Regions from separate parts of the Homo sapiens genome. Here region 1 is linked to region 2. A link means that fine-mapping ties the variant in region 2 to the expression of a gene that starts in the linked region. Tissue or cell type: whole blood. Region 2 holds a variant in brackets; the other region holds the start of a gene. All regions are shown on one strand. Distances are between the middles of the regions.

Region 1 (8,108 bases), 160 kb before region 2:
ACATCCAAGAAATATCTTTCTTTGCACACATGGAAAATCTACTAGAGAGTTTTTGACTATGGCTACAAATGTGTGGGAAAGGGAAATGCTGATGACTTTTCAAGGCTTTCCTGACTAAAAAATCTGACACTGTAAAAAAAGGACACTGTATTCTGAAAGGTACAAGTACATATAAATAAATAAACATGTTTTTTTTTTCTCAGTAATATCTGAGACTTCTGAATTCCTCTGTAATTACATTTAGCAGGGGAAAAACAACCTCATCCATGCCTGTGCATAGCAGCTCCCAGCAATCTGTCGGCTTTTCACAGCATAGTAACCCACTGATCGCTGTCTTAGCTCTTCAATAAATACCGCAGGCCGTGTGTGTGTGCTTACAGAACTTCACAGGTTTCCATGGATACATGAATTTTAGTGCTAAAGCACATTTACTATCACTTTTCTTGTCACCAAGAATCCTGTAAACACTTGTGCTTTAAGCTTTTGTGCAGAAATTTAGCATTTCGTAGAGGACAAGTCAGAATTACCTTTTTCCAAATGCATTGTATGATTTTCCTGTAGGGCGAAATCCCCAAAATCATTGATATTTGTGGCCTGTTTTTAGTCATGCACTTTTATTTATTAAACCAATAAAAGATAATAAAGGTTTAACTACATTGTCAGTACCACTTTTAAATGACAGAAATGTATACTATTTAAATGTTACAATTAATAAATGAGATAACTTCCTCTGAATTTAAAATGCAAAGAGAGAAATAGGAAATGCAGAAGTAGGAATATTATGTTGATATTTAGCCACTTCCTAAATATGGTGAAATTTAAGAATAATTTTCAAGTATATTTTTGTGTCATACCCATAGCTTAAATTTAATCTTTCTTTTTTTTTTTTTTTTTTTTTTTTTTGAGACGGAGTCCCGCTGTTTAGCCCAGGCCGGATTGCAGTGGCGCAATCTCGGCTCACTGCAAGCTCCGCCTCCCAGGTTCACGCCATTCTCCTGCCTCAGCCTCCCGAGTAGCTGGGACTACAGGCGCCCGCCACCGCGCCCGGCTAATTTTTTGTATTTTTAGTAGAGACGGGGTTTCACCGTGTTAGCCAAGATGGTCTCGATCTCCTGACCTTGTGATCCGCCCGCCTCGGCCTCCCAAAGTGCTGGGATTACAGGCGTGAGCCACCGCGCCCAGCCAATTTAATCTTTCTTATACATACTAAGCTTTTTGGATATTTAAAAGACCTTTTCACAAATCTGTGAAGATGGCAGGCTATGTTACTATTTTTCCTGTTTCGTATATATATAAGCTGAGGCTCAGAGGTTTAACAAACATGCTTCTTATCATACAGCTAGCAAATGGTAGAACCAGGCTTAGAACCCAAGACTCATGACTCATTGCCTTTCCATTGTCTTTTTTTTTCTGAGAAGAATGCAGGCAACTCTTTATATAGAAGACATAGCTATGTTCTTCCTTCCTTGCCACATGCTGATAGATTCCCATGTCTCTGGTGTAGCCTCCATTACATTATTCTTTTCTTCATTCGTCCCTTGACTGCTCCACAGACTTGACTTAGCCTAATTTACCAAGCTTAGTCATTTCAGATGAATATAATCATCAGGAAGCAGCAGTTGCAGAGACATTACCTAGCTTGGATGTGCAGTACGTGAAAAACCTGTAAGCAAACAGATTTTCAGTTGCAATGATATTGACCAGAAATACACAAAGCAGATTGAATTAGAGGGTTAAGTAATTTGTACAGGAAAAAAATCCAGTCTGAGCAGGCAGGTGGCCTGGACATTCAAGTCAAGAAAAAAGCTTTTACTTTTACAGCATAGATTTTAGGGGCTGAGGTTGGAACTATTGGAATGATTGTCTCAACTCTTACTAGCTCACATAAAACGTAGCCAACCATCTCTGCATTATCTTGGCAAATATTTCAGTTATTTGTGCAGCTCTTTTATTTTTGTGGTTTTGAAAACCTATTAAAAAAAAGGTTTTTCTTTTGCTGTCTGATAAAAGAGGGAGTCTGGGTAGGGGAAGAGCTCTTGCCTAAGAGGCCTGACTTCAGTTCTACCCCAGGAGAACTGGAATACAGAGCTCCACATCTCAGGCCTCACACCAACTGCCAGGACTGAGCAGTCACAAGTTTGCTGAGAGGATCAAATGAGACAACAGAATCAAAGCGCTTTGCTAATTGTAAAATATGCACAAAACATATAGGGTTGTTTGAGGCCTCTGTCTAATATCACACAATGCCAATTGGTTTGAGTTTCCATGTGTTAAAAAGCCAATTGTAATTTTTGTTACCTTATAGGGCTTTTTCTGGAATGTGAACTTTATTCACTCAACAACAAACAGGACTAAGTCATCTCCATTATGCTTTTTTCAATATGTTTCAACTCTTACTATAAAATTAGGCAGCAACAGAGAATGCCAGCCACACAGGGCTTCACTTATAATGGCCAAAATAATAGGAACTGTTTATTTAAGTGTAATTTAACATCTGCTCCAATCATAGCCCCAGATTACAACTCTAGATTAAGACAAACTTTGCCTATTACTGCCCAAGGCTAAGTCCTCATTCTTTCTTAATGGAAATTTTAATTTTCCACTGCTCATCCGTAGAGTACCACCGATTGATCAACTCTCTCTCCAATCCATAGAAATGAAGAGAGAACTCAGGGCTCTCCTGAACTACAACGCTTTCTACATTTCTCCTATAAATTCCACGCAGGCATTGAATTGAATTTGTTCTTAACCAAATGCGTTTTATCTATACCTGGCAGGAATCTAGAAGTGAAATTACAAGATTTATTTCATTTTAATTCTATTATGAAGCATTTAATCACAAATACCCTGAAAATGAAAAGATAATTTATCATTTTACCTTGACTGAGCAACTCTCCTCACTTCACATTCATGAATCCATAACGCAGAGAGGAGACTGGATGATTAAGTGTTTGATTAGAGAAAACAGATTAACCTAGCAAACATAATAAATTTGGCTCATAAGCAGGATGGCTTTATAAATGCTCACAATACCTCTCCTGTATAAAATCATGAACCACTTCCTACAGTGATGACTCCATCGAAATAGTTGAGAAACATAAAGCAAATGCATGTTTATGGCTTTCTCTTTGAGACATTAAAAGGGTATTGAAAGGCATATCTGATTCAGCTTATAACTCTGGATATATATTAAGGAACATGTAAGAAAATATTAATGCATAAAAAAAGCTACAACTTCTCAAGTGTTCTAGTTTCCACTTTGTCAATAATTACGTTTTCAATGTCCTTCTGTGGACTGTTTCCAAAGGTGCCAATCCAGACCCAAAGTTTCAGATCACTCAGATTCACCCTTAACCTTCATAACACAACCCAATAGCTTTACGAAAAAAGTTGCATATTTAGGTAGTTGTTATCCCATTATGACAAAATACATAAAATTAGCGAGATATTTTTTAGCCTTCAAATAAGTGGGAAAAAATCCTTTTAGCTGAGATTCCATTTACATCAGAATAAAAATCTAAGTTATGACTAGGTTGAAGCAACGTCCTGTGCAGCGCTCCATAAAGTTCACTTAGTCTTCAAGGGTTCCTTACTTAGCTAGGTTAGTATTCCTGGCCTCTTTTTTTAGCAGTGAGAAAAAGGATACTCTCCCTGCCCCAGCTTTATTTTTAAACTCACAGCCATATCCTGGAGGTCTCTGCTGGCTATTTGGCGCGTGGGGGCGGAGGGGGGCCGGGGGAGGGGGGCGGGGCGGGGTCTGGAGGTCTGTGCTGGCTATCTGGCGTGTGTGTGTGTGTGTGTGTGTGTGTGTGTGGTTGGAGGTCTCTGCTGGCTATCTGGCGTGTGTGTGTGTGTGGTGTGGTGTGTGTAAGCAGTGAGGTTGTTTTAGGGCCAGTCCTTCCTCCGCCACTTTGCTGACTCAAAGACCCAGAGGCTTTCTTGGGGTGCAGGTACCATGATTCCTTGGGCCCTAAGGGAATTTTTGTTAGGCTAGAAGAGTGGGTGTACTCATGATGGGTGTACCCGAACATTCCTGGGCTCAACAAAACCGATTATCTTTATAACCGCGGCGCCTAGCACAGCGCCTGGTGCCCTAAACGTTGGCTGCGGGAACGTCCGAGACGCGGGTGCGGAGCCGGGGGCGGAATAACTGGTTGCGCGGCGCTTTGACCGTAGGCGCTGGAGCGCGTGCGTTGCGTGCGCGCGCGGAGGCGGCTGCGTCGGGGCGCGAGAAGGTGCAGTTCCCCGGCGGGCGGGCGGGCGGGCGGGCGAAGCTGGGCTCGGGGCCAAGCGAGGTCTAGCCGGAGCGACTGTGCCCCGCCTCCTGGGCGGAGCGGGCGGCTCCCCATGGTCAGAGCCTCGTGCCGGCTCGGCAGCGCCCGGACGCCGAGCCCAGCGCGTCGGCCCCCCGGCGTGCGGGCGTCTCAGAGCCGCGGAGGGGCCGCCGGGACCGTTTCAGCGTGGCGGCGCTGGTGCTGGCGTTGGCCCTGGAGGACGGCCCCGAGTGATGGCTGGCGCCTGCCTCCCGGGTGTCTCCCGGGTACAGATGGAGTCGTCCCGCGGCCGCCGGCGGCAAGGTCGGCAGCTGCGAGGCCAAGAGAGACCCCAGGACACACACAGCTGCCTCCCGGTGCGAGAAGAAGACCCCGGCTTGAGAGTGAGGTGTGCTGGGCGGAGTGGGGGAGGACCTCGAGGCGCCCCGGCAACCAACCGTGTTCTAACCAACTGGCAAGTGGGAAAAGTTGACATGACTAGAGAACAACGGAGCTTATCCACCCTCCTCTTTTTCACAGACTGGGGAACTCAGTCCACAGGGCAAGAGACTTTCTTCCCTAGGTTACACAGCTATTAAGTGGCAGAGCTGGGACTAGAAACCCAACCTGTTTAAGGCTTTTTAAGCCTACTGTCCTCACTGAAGTGAATATGAATAATAATACAAGTAATTATTATCGTATTGGATTTTGGAAAGTTGGATGGTGATATTCCTTTGGCATGCGAGACTATTAATATGACTCGTGCTGGAAAAAGTCACTCATGTTTTCTCTGGGCTTGGATTCCTCATTCCTTCATTCAATGAACATTTGCTCCGCAGTTACTTGTGCGAGGCACTCTCACCGGAGACTGAAGGTATAGAGCAAGCTTGTCCAACCCGTGGCTCACTAACCGCGTGCGGCCCAGGACAGCTTTGAATGCCGCCCAACACAAATTTGTAAATGTTCTTAAAACATTATGAGAGGTTTTTTTTTTGCGCTTTTTTTTTTTTTCTCATCAGCTATCATTAGAGTTAGTGTATTTTATGTGTGGCCCAAGACAGTTCTCCCAGTGTGGCTCAGGGAAGCCAAAAGATCGGACGCATGGTATAGAGAAAAACAAGAAGCATCCCTCCATAGCGTATGCCCCACAAGAGACAATTTCCCAGAGACCAGTAGCTGAGGCAGGTGTAGGAAGTGAATGGGCCATTAGATGGATGCCTGTGGAAGCTAAAGAAGGCGGATCGGAGGAAGACAATCCGACCTGGGGAGTGGAGGAGAGAGGGGGAGAAGGTGGCATCGACTTGGATTTTTTAAGATTGAGTCATTTGGGGCACTTGGAAATGGGCATTCTGGGTAGAAGGTTCAGTATTAACAAAAACAAAACAATACTCTTGAGTGGGAAGAATAATGGATAGTTTGATTTGCCTAGAATGTAGAGATTAATAAGGATGCCAGGATTCTAGGGCGGGGGACCAAGATGGGGAGTCAGTGGTGGGAAGCCCTGGAAGATTCCAAGCAAGGCATGACAGTGCTGTGGCAGCGGATAGTTAATTTGGCCAAGGAGTGGAACCCTCCTTTGTAGCGTGAGAGTGTTGGACCAAGGATCTTTGCAGCACTGAGAGTCTATGAATTAGCCAATCTGGGAATACAGGGCTTCATGGAAACATCACAGTGTAGGAGGATTATGGATGGAAAGTGCAGCTGGAATGGGAAAAGGTCGAAACCTAATTAGAAGCCTTGGGCCAGGGGTAGCCTGTGATCACCTGCGATTGTGTTTCAGACTTCCAGTAACATTCTTGGGAGTAGTTGTTAAAAAAGTGCTCTTCGTGTTTCTGTAACTTGGGTGGCCTCTTAGGCATGAGCAGACGTTCAGCCTGTCCCTATCGGCAGGGAACATTTATTTATTTTGATGCATCCCCAGGGACCAACAGAGAGCTATAAAGACAGCAGCCTGTTTTGCCAGTTGGCCAGTTGAAATGGGAAATTTCTTATACAAAGATTACAGACTTAACCTTCATGCCACTCTTTATTATAAACTGTTCATACAGTTCTTTGCAGATGGACTCAAAATGAAGCATTTTTTTACCTTAAAGATTGTAGTAGAGGATGTTATAAATGTGTCTTTAATTGGTTCTGTGTTTTCTCATACTTATGAAGCACTGCATTACACAATTTGTCTGAATGAAATTGGTAGATGTGGTCCATGTAAAACTTACCCAATCAGACAGGTTACAGATATTTGCCTAAAATCTGAGCCTGGGCACCTTAGAGATATTCTAACCTCACCCGGAAACTCCGCAACTGGAAAGGTGCAGGGATTCTGGAGCGAGGTTCCACTTCACATTATCTTCTGGTTCTGCATATGAATATTTAAAAACTTCCTGTGGTGTTATATGAAATATGTATTTGCATGCTTTTGCAGCTGCTCCATCTAATAGTATTTGAGAAGGGGAAAAAATGAAATGTTGCTTAGTAGAAATTCCTTTGGTTAATGATGTTAATCAATGGTATAAAAAAGGAGCATGAACTCTGGAATAAGAAGGGACACCTGAAATTGAATTCCAGTTGTGTCGCTTACTACCTGTGCGACTTTAGGTCTGGCACTTAACTCATCTGAGTCTCAGTTTCCTCATCTGTAAAATGGTCACCACAATAATCAGCTCGCAGTCTAACAGAACAACCTGTCACCACTAGAATCCCACTTGTTGGCCTTTTATAGCCACACCTACTTCCCTCCCACTGCCTCCTCCACTTCCTTAACTCATAGCAACCACTGTGTGTTCACTATCTTTTTAAATAATTGTATCATTTCAAGAATGTTATAAAAATGGAATGATATAGTGTGTGACCCTTTGGCATTGTGTGTTTTTATTTTTTCCACTAAGTATAATTCTCTAGAGGTACATTCAGGTTGTCGCATATGTCAATAGTTTTTTCCTTTATTCCTAAGTAGTATTCCATGGTAGGCCTGCACACAGTTTTTTATTTTTTAATTTTTTTAACCACCCTTTGAAGGTCATCTTGGTTGTTTCCACTTTTGGGATATGATGAATAAAGCTGCTATAAGCTTTTGTGTGCAGGTTTTTGGGTGGCTATAAATCTTCATTGTCTTTATTCTCAGGGGTAAATGCCTAGAAGTACAGTTGCTGGATTATATAGTAGTTACAAGCTAAACTTTTAAGGAAGTTGCCAGACTGCTTCCAGAGTAGCTACACATTCCCACCAGCAGTGAATGAGTGATCCAGTTAATGACAATGATGACTCTGCATCATTGTCAACATTTGATGTTGTCACTGTTTTTTATTTTAGCTATTCTGTTAGATGTATAATGATATCTCATTTTGTTTTTTTTTTTTAAATTGACAATGATTTATATTTATGGGGTACAACGTGATGTTTTAATCTATCCATACATTATAGAAATAATCAAACTAATGTATTAGTTCATTTTCTGTTATAACAGATTTATAACAGAATGCCAAAAACTAAGTAATTTATAAAGAAAATTAATGTATTTCTTATAGTTATGGAGGCTGAGAAATCCAAGGTCAAGGGACCACTTCTTGTGAGAGCCTTCTTGTTGGTGGAGACTCTGCAGAGTCCCAAGGTGGTACAGAGTATCACATGGTAAGGGGGCTGAGTATGCTACCTTGCTAGCTTAGGTCTCTCTTCCTGTGATAAAGCCACTAGTTCCCTTCCCATGATAATCCTTTAATCCATGAACTCCTTAATCCAGTAATCCATGAATAGATTAATCCATTCATGAGGACAGAGCTCTCCTGATCCAACCACCTCTTCAAGGCCTGCCCCACTTCTCAATACTACCACATTAGACATTCAGTTTCAACATGCATT
Region 2 (8,108 bases):
CATATCAGCTATTGAGGTGGGAAAGTGAGGACTGAGTGCTGAGAGTAATAGGAAATTCAGTTTGCTGAAGTAGAGAAGGCAATAAGGGAAAAGATCTGAGATGAAACCAGATGTGGCCAGTGGAGAAGGACTTGAAATCCTTAGTAAGCAATGTGTACTTTATCTGGTAGACACTTCAGACCATTAAGGGTTTCTGGCCATGGACATGACATCATCAGAGTTGTGCAATAGAATAGATAGAGACTTCGAGAAGAAAAAATAGAAGAAAGATCTCAGTCAGGGAGACTACTTAAGAGGCTCTTGTAATCAGGCAGGTGGTGACAACCAAGGGCTTAGAGGAGAGGAAGTTCTGCACAAGAGACACTGCCAAGAGAGGGTCTAGGACTTAGGAATTGCTTGTAGCAGGCCCAGGTGGGACTTTTCATTGCATATATGTGTTTGTAATTACAAAGGTAAAAGCCATCATTTACCCACAAAACTTCCTCGATATGATGCAAAACCATCACCCTGGGCTTGCAGCACAATATGAATGGTGCCTCCTAGGACTGTACAGTGTGAAATACGTACAACACATGTGAGACCTCTCTGCAGTGTAACCCCCTTTAACCACAATTTTAAACTCAGCAGAATGTCCACGGTAAGTATGTGTGCAGCCTTTATCACAGGTCAGTGACTTATCAGATTTTTCTTGGCATTGAAACACTTCGAAGTCAAGACAGCAAGGAAAAGAGCTGGGAGAGTCTGGATGACTCTTTGAGTGCTTTTCATCCAACCATGGACAATGCTCTGCAGCATCCTGCATTCTTTTCCCTGACAGATTAGCTAATTTAATTAGCAGAATCTGGCTAGATGTGAAAAATGTAAAGAACCTTGATTTGGAAGTCAGTAGGTCTAGATTATAGACTCAGCTCATTCATTTCCCCATTATGGGTTCTTGAACAAGTAGTACTCGTTCAGCCTTGGTCATCTGAAGGGTGGCACAGGCATTATGCAGAAAACAAACCACGGTAGTAGAGCAAGAGCAACATTAGACAGAGTGGTCAGGGAAGGCTTCTTGGAAGAAGTGACAAGTGAGCTGAAATCTGAAGGAGAAGGAATCAGGAATGGCAACAGGGGGTTGGTGGCGGGCAGCATTCAAGGCAGAGAGGATGGCAAATGCAGTCTTCCTGAGGATAGAGCAAGCTCAGAGTGTTTGACAAAGCCATGTGGCTCACTCCTAAGGCTCTTTCATCAACTCCGGGAGAGTTGTGTTTTGTTGTTAATTTTATCTTTGTTTAATTTTGGAGAAACTCACTTTACTAATAAAGTTTAAAGGCCATTGTTAACAAGTCTAATGGAAACCAAAGGGCAGACAGAATGTTATAGGGCAGCAGTTTTCCAAATGTTTATGCATAGAGAAGTGAGCACAGTTCAAAGCCAAAAGAAAATCTATAGGAACCTGAAAAGCTGTGCCAAGCAAGTCTGAATAAAGATCAAGCAGGGATATAGTTTTCTGTTTCTGGAGACTGAAGTCAGAAACCAGAGCTTTATCCAATCACATGAAATGGGCTCACAGGGCTCTGGTGTTATGATTTTCCTCCCTCAGCTGTGGGAGTTGGCCTTTTCTGTGATTGATGGTCAGGTTCAAGAGAACTTCCATGAAACACCAAAATCTCTTTCTGGAAGAAACTGTGCTCATTATGGCAATTACATTGGACATTTGCCTCGCTGTCGTCTTGTTTTTCAATGCTACGGTTTTTCTCTTCTTTTTTCATTCAGGAAAAACAACATAGGAGAGTGACACAGCAGGGATCTCGCTGATAAAGGACCTGCATCTGAATCCAGCTCCTCCATCCATGGGCCATGTGTCCTGGTTGCTGAGACATCTGGAGAGCCTTGTACCTCATCAAAAGAAGAGAGACAGTAATCCTTGCCTTTCTTTCCTCCTAAGGTTGTTAACGAGGCTTAAATGAGAGAACAAGGATGAAAGTATTTTGTAAACTCTAATGCCCTGTGTATAAAGCAGAGAATAATAGCATCTGTGGTGTTAGAAAATGCCTGGAACTTTGTAAAGATGTTGTTTGATTCAACATTACTGGAGTAAACCACACCATTAGACAGAATGAAAGACTCCACCGCAGAGAGAGAGACTGATTTTTATAACAACTGAATTTATTATAGCATAAACTAAATACAAAGCTCTGAATAAATAATCGTTTTTTTCAGTCATCACATCTGCAGGTGTGTATGTGAACATTTCCATAAGCACATAAGGATACAGATGTCACAGACATATTTAGTGAGGGAAGCCCAGAGTCACGGTTCTCTGTGGGTAAGAGCTAGATGCCTTGAGATGAACATACAGGGCACCGTCTCAAATGATTTGGACTATGTGACTGTGTTCGTTTCTCCTTCAGACTCTGCTCAAGAAAGTGTATTGATAACAGGTTGCTCCGCCCTCAAGTTTAGGGCACTCTCCCACGCTCTTTCATGCAAAGTTTTTTAACACCTCTCTTTAAGAAAATTCACAAATCAGAAGTATTACCCCAGCTTCAATCTGACAATCAGGACCCCTACTCTGCCCCTCTTTCCTAGGATCTTATCTCCATTAGGGGTCCCCTTTCAAGGTACAGGGCAATTGAGTCTATATGTCCACACAATCGGATCTGACAAGGCTGGGAGCCCTCCCTCCAGAGCCCATCCTCCCATGAGTGTCTGTCTGGTATTCTGTGTGGGTAGTAGTAGAAAATAGTTCACATCTGGTGGCTCATGTCTGTAATCCCGGCACTTTGGGAGGCCGAGGCGGGCGGATCACGAGGTCAGGAGATTGAAACCACCCTGGCTAACATGATGAAACCCCATCTCTACTAAAAATACAAAAAATTAGCCGGGCATGGTGGCAGACCTGTAGTCCCAGCTACTTGGGAGGCTGAGGCAGGAGAATGGTGTGAATCCGGGAGGCGGAGCTGGCAGTGAGCCGAGATTGTGCCACTGCACTCTAGCCTGGGCAACAGAGTGAGACTCCATCTCAAAAAAAAAAAAAAAAAAAAAAGGTTCACATCACAGCATAAGACTGAGACACTGGGTGTATCAAGCTTGAAAGAGATCTTGCAGGTAATTGAGTTTCATCTGATACTTGACTTCCTTCTCTACTTGGCCCTTGAATAGCCACTTGTTCCTCCAATGTCCTAGAGTACATTCCACTGCTATCAGTGCTGGCTGTTAGGACAGTGGTTAGGGCAGATGGCCTGAAGCCATCCCCACTGTGATCTTTACCCATTTGTCCTGATTTTGCCTTCTCATGCCACCTGGCACAAGTAGGATCCTTCTTTCTCAGGAAAACCCTTCACAGTCCCCTGACTGTTTTCTTTCCAGGCTGGGCACTCCCTGTTCCTTCAATTACTGCTTCTAAGATGTAGTTAATCCCAGGAATACAGTCTTCAAAATGAGTCTCTTTTCCCAAAGATTTTATGGCTGCTTGACTAGTGGAGGACTAGATTCTTTTCTTCCTGTTCCCTGCCAGCCTTTGCTAGTGATAGAATCACTTAGGATCAAGGCAAGAGCAACTCAAAGTCTCAGAAAGACAGACAATCATTTTTTTGTTTTGTTTTGTTTTGTTTTTAATACACCTCTAGCCCAGGCCTGGCAGGATGCCTGGCATTCATTTGAACAGAGGGCCTGGTATTAGCAAAGGGTTGCCCATTCTTTGCTTGACTGTGAGATCACACTAAGCAACCTGCCCTGCTGGAACTCTGGAATTTGGAAGTATTTGGCAGCAATATAAGGTTTGCTCAGAAGATCTGTATTTGAGGCCTAGATCTGCTCTTGCCATTACTGAATCTCAGCTTTCTCATCTGTATGGTGGAGATGATAAGCCCTTCCTTGTTCAGTCATGGGACAATTGGTACCATTCAGGTGAGTTAGTGGAGGTGAATGCACTTAGCAAAGGGCACATTTAAGTATGAACTGTGCAGGCTGATCTTGCTCATGACTAGGTCACAGACCATCTCTAGCTTGCCCCTGCCTACAACCCTCTACTTTTGGAAAATGAGAAACACTTTTAGAGAAGGACATTCAGAACTGCCATATCATTGCTGAGGCTGGCTTTGCAAAAGGAAACATTTCTTTCTGTAC[CA/C]AAAAAGACAGTGATTCTGCAGTCTTGAAACACTAAAATATCTTCACGCCCTATTTTAAAACCAGAAGTAACAGGGTACCCTCATGGCTGGGAGACACCATGTTCCTAGAATCAGCTGCAATCATAGAGCCATCAGCCATGCTCAAGAGCTCAGTTAGGGGGAAGGAATGCTTGCAAATGCTATTGATAAGTTCCAAAGCCAGCCTGGGCCAGGACACTTATCCCCTGATCAGAACATTCACCTAGGATTTGATGCTCATAATACAAATTTTGCTTTTGCCTTAAAATATTATATGTAGGTGTGCTCCTAGAGTTCAGTGTTGTCTCCTGAGGTAACAGAAACCTGAGTCTTCCTTGTGCTGAACAAATCAAATATAACCAAATTGTAATAGTGACAAAATAAGGACAATTTTAGTTTTCTGGAAACTCAAGCCACAAACTTTAAAAAAAAAATGTACTAGTTGTGTAAGAACTCCCATCAATAGTGCCATATAATGCTGTAGCATGAGACTAATGTTTCTCAAAAATAATAAAGCAGAGGAGTGAAAATTTCTGGAGTTGGCCATGTGACATGAGAGATTCCTAAAACATAGGATAAGTTACTGGGGTTAGGAAAAGTGGGCTGTAGTGGACAGCACTCGTGCTTTCTGATCTGTTATTTTCCTCTCCTTCCCAGGACTACGTTCCAGACCAACTCTATCATTTGTGGGGCCTGGTACAAAATGAAAATATGGGGACCCCTGTTCAAAAATTAAGAATTTTAAGATGGAAACAGCAGAGTGTTAAAGCCAAGTGTGGGGACCTTCTAAGCATGGGGCCCTGTGTAGTGACAGCTCATAAGCCCATGAAGCATCCCTAAACACAGGAGACTGCACTTTCCAGCTCCCTGGCCAAATCCTTGACTAATGAGATATGAGTAGGGAAAGCAATGTGTGCCACTTTTGGGGTGAGGCAGTGAAGAGCCCACACGTGATCTCCAGTCTATTCCTTCCCCCATCACAGTCAACACACAGTCCTTGCATCGAGCTGATGGAGCCATCAGGTTGAAGCAGTCACTGCTGTAAGAATGGCAGTTCCAGAGTGTCACCTGGATCACGAAAGAAGCACTTGTGTGTTAAGGCACTGATATCTGAGAGTTGTTTTTTATTGCAGCATAGGCTAAGCTTATCCTTAACAATATGTTGGGTAAGGCCAGAAACAGAAGAAAAAGCCTCAAATCTGAAAAGTACTACAGAGAAAAGGAACCCAGACAGTAAAGATTGGTGTAATGTTTCCCACGCATTAGTTTTTCCATCGATGAAGTAAAAATTCAAAAATTACAACTCCGTGAGTATACACAGTACTACTTCCCCTCAACTCATTTTTATAAAAAGGAAAGTATTGTCCTGTCCTAAGAGGAAAGATCACATATTTTTCCCCTTTAGCCTGCTTGTCTCTTGGCCCATAGAAATTCTTGGCCCATTCTTGCCTTCACTGAATGCCTCTAATACCTTCAGAAGCCAAGAGGAAAGCACTCTTCTGGGTCAATGTTCTTCTCTGTAGACAGTATTTTATCAAACAGACTTTAGTTTGTCACCATGATTTGATAGGTAGCCCCAAAACTCCAGCTGATGTTACAAGAGTCTCATTTCTTAAAATCAATGAAACTGGTCCCTTTTGTCATTGTTTCTCTGTAATATCAACTTGGATATCACATGTCCTTCAGAGTTGTTCTTCATTGCTCTCAAATACTGGATTGCTGTAAGACACTCCTCTGCCACACTCCGGCATGTCAGAGTGGGAGGTTTGGTTTAGCGGGGGCCAACTAGGGTCATTTGCCAAGTCCCTCTGCCATATCCGATACTGGCTTTTTGACTGATAGCCGAAACATCTTTTAATCATCATCCACAGGGCTCGATTTTCAATAACAGCCTCCTGCAAAATAAAATAATTACTTTTTACAAGCAAGGGTTGAGTGTTTTGAGGCTACAGCCCTCCACAGGCCATCATAAGTCACTACTGCAATGGTTGCTTAGATCCAGCTTGACAAAGAGCTTGACCACTGGACCAATCTAAGGTGGTTTCATTGGACAGGTATTGGTTTCTCAAACGTTTCTACTTAAGTAACTCCTGTGGGAGAAGTAAGAGGTACAACATTTCAAGACTCTGGGAACATAACTTGAAATGGCTTGCCTCAAAAATGAAGTTTCTTTTGAATCTCACATCTAAATTGAATTTAAAATCATTCAAATTCTATGTTTCACTCTATAGCACATCTATATTTTGTTTAATATAAAATGACATTAAAATTACTACTAAATACTAAACACAATTGACCCTATATAAAGATGTGGCCCATGTATGACATGTTTTTGATATATCCTGACATATCACTGCATATTTAATTTCACACGGGCCAGTCTTGGAGTTGAACAGATCTGGATTTAGGTCCCAGTTCTGACACCTATTATGGGCAAATTAGTTACTCTATCCATGTCTCCGTGATTAGAATAATCCCTTCCTTATGTTTGTTGTAAGGCTTATATAACTCCCTTTACAATGCAGGGCAGGGCAGGGCATAGCTCTCTCCCTTTGCCTACCCTTTGGAACTACTCATTTAACAAATGGCTATGCACTGTGGTCCTGTTCACACATGCCTCTAACCTTCACCTTCACTGAAATACAGTATTAAGATTACAAAAGACATGTCTCTTTGAAAACATTTTGCAATGCCATTTTATTTCATGAGTTAGAGTGAGCCTTGAATAGAGCCCAAGTTATAACTTATAATTCATGAGAGGTTATCATATTAATTTTCCACTTTTATCATGTTTGCTCACAAAGATTGACCATCTTAGAGGTTATTGTGAAAGAAACAAAGAAAAAATATGGGACGTGAAACTGTCCCACAGAATTAGAACTGATTTTCATGTCTATCTTTGCTAATTTGAAAGAGTTAATTCTGTGAGATTCTATAAGGAACTTTGCCAGATATAGTAGTTTTCCTAAAATCTACCCATTTTTGCCATTTAGGTTCCACTGCCCATGAAAGGATAGAGAACAGCCAGTCTGCATTATTCCTGTGATAACTGACCATCTGCTGGCTGCGGGGCTGTTAAAGATCCATATAACCGTCTCAGCCTCTTGGAAACTTAGCCAGATGAGTTATTCTACTTTCCTGCAGCAAGGTTTTTTTGTCCTCCTTAATTGACGTGAAAACAGTAGTTCTTCTTAGAGCTGGGATAAGGCAGGAGCATCGAGTAAAGGTTTTAAAATCTTACTTACTTCAAGGAAACCTTAGCAAACCTTAAAACAAAATAGATGAAACCACACACACACACACACAGAGAGAGAAACTTTGGTGCTCTCCATCTCTACATCTTGCCTTCAGTGTTTTTTAGTTCTGGACTCTGATGACCTGTATCACCTTGCTGCTCTGGAAGAGGAAACTACAGAGAGGTGATCTGTCCTGTTACCGCACATTATAAATACAAGGCAGAACTAGTGACATGATCTGAATTTGTATTTCCATCCAAATCTCGTGCTGAAATATAATCCCCAATGTTGCAGGAAGGGCTGGATGGGAGGTGACTGGGTCGTAGGGATGGATTTCCTTCTTGCTGTTTTCGTGATAGTGAGTGAGTTCTCATGAGATCTGATTGTTTAAAAGTGTGTAGCACCTTCCCCTTCTCTCTCTTCCTCCTGCTCGGGCCATGTAAGACCTGCCTGCTTCCCCTTTGCTTTCCGCCATGATTGAAAGTTTCTTGGGGCCTCTCCAGCCATGCTTCTGGTACAGCCTGCAAAACCATGAGCCAATTAAACCTCTTTCCTTCATAAATTACCCCGTTTCAGGTATTTGTTCACAGCAGTGGGAGAATGGACTAAAATACAACTAGAAAAAAACGAAAGCCTTAGTGAGACATTTCTTTAAAAAAATTTCGCCACATGAGCGCTTCTGACTGGCTACTCAAATAACTCATACATACAAGCATACCTATATAAACACATCAATAAT

The links. PIP is the estimated chance that this variant, and not a neighbour inherited with it, causes the effect.
Region 1: PLAAT1 starts here. The variant in region 2 is fine-mapped to the expression of PLAAT1 in whole blood (INTERVAL, PIP above 0.99).

The regions. Positions count from the first base shown.
Region 1 is chr3:193,236,872-193,244,979 of GRCh38, forward strand. PLAAT1 (phospholipase A and acyltransferase 1) reads left to right here and starts at 4,351. Exons shown (of 4, transcript NM_020386.5): 1 at 4,351-4,662. MGC2889 (a long non-coding RNA gene) reads left to right here and starts at 4,908. Exons shown (of 1, transcript NR_026877.1): 1 at 4,908-7,101. LOC105374280 (a long non-coding RNA gene) reads right to left here and starts at 4,152. Exons shown (of 3, transcript XR_924833.3): 1 at 4,024-4,152; 2 at 2,879-2,974; 3 at 1-1,663. RefSeq lists a silencer at 4,253-4,502.
Region 2 is chr3:193,396,837-193,404,944 of GRCh38, forward strand. It overlaps ATP13A4 (ATPase 13A4), which reads right to left. Exons shown (of 30, transcript NM_032279.4): 30 at 2,131-6,028. The coding sequence ends at 5,816. Among named protein-coding and RNA genes, the nearest start is that of ATP13A5, 22 kb to the left of the region's middle. The variant CA/C (reference allele first, on the strand shown) is at 4,114.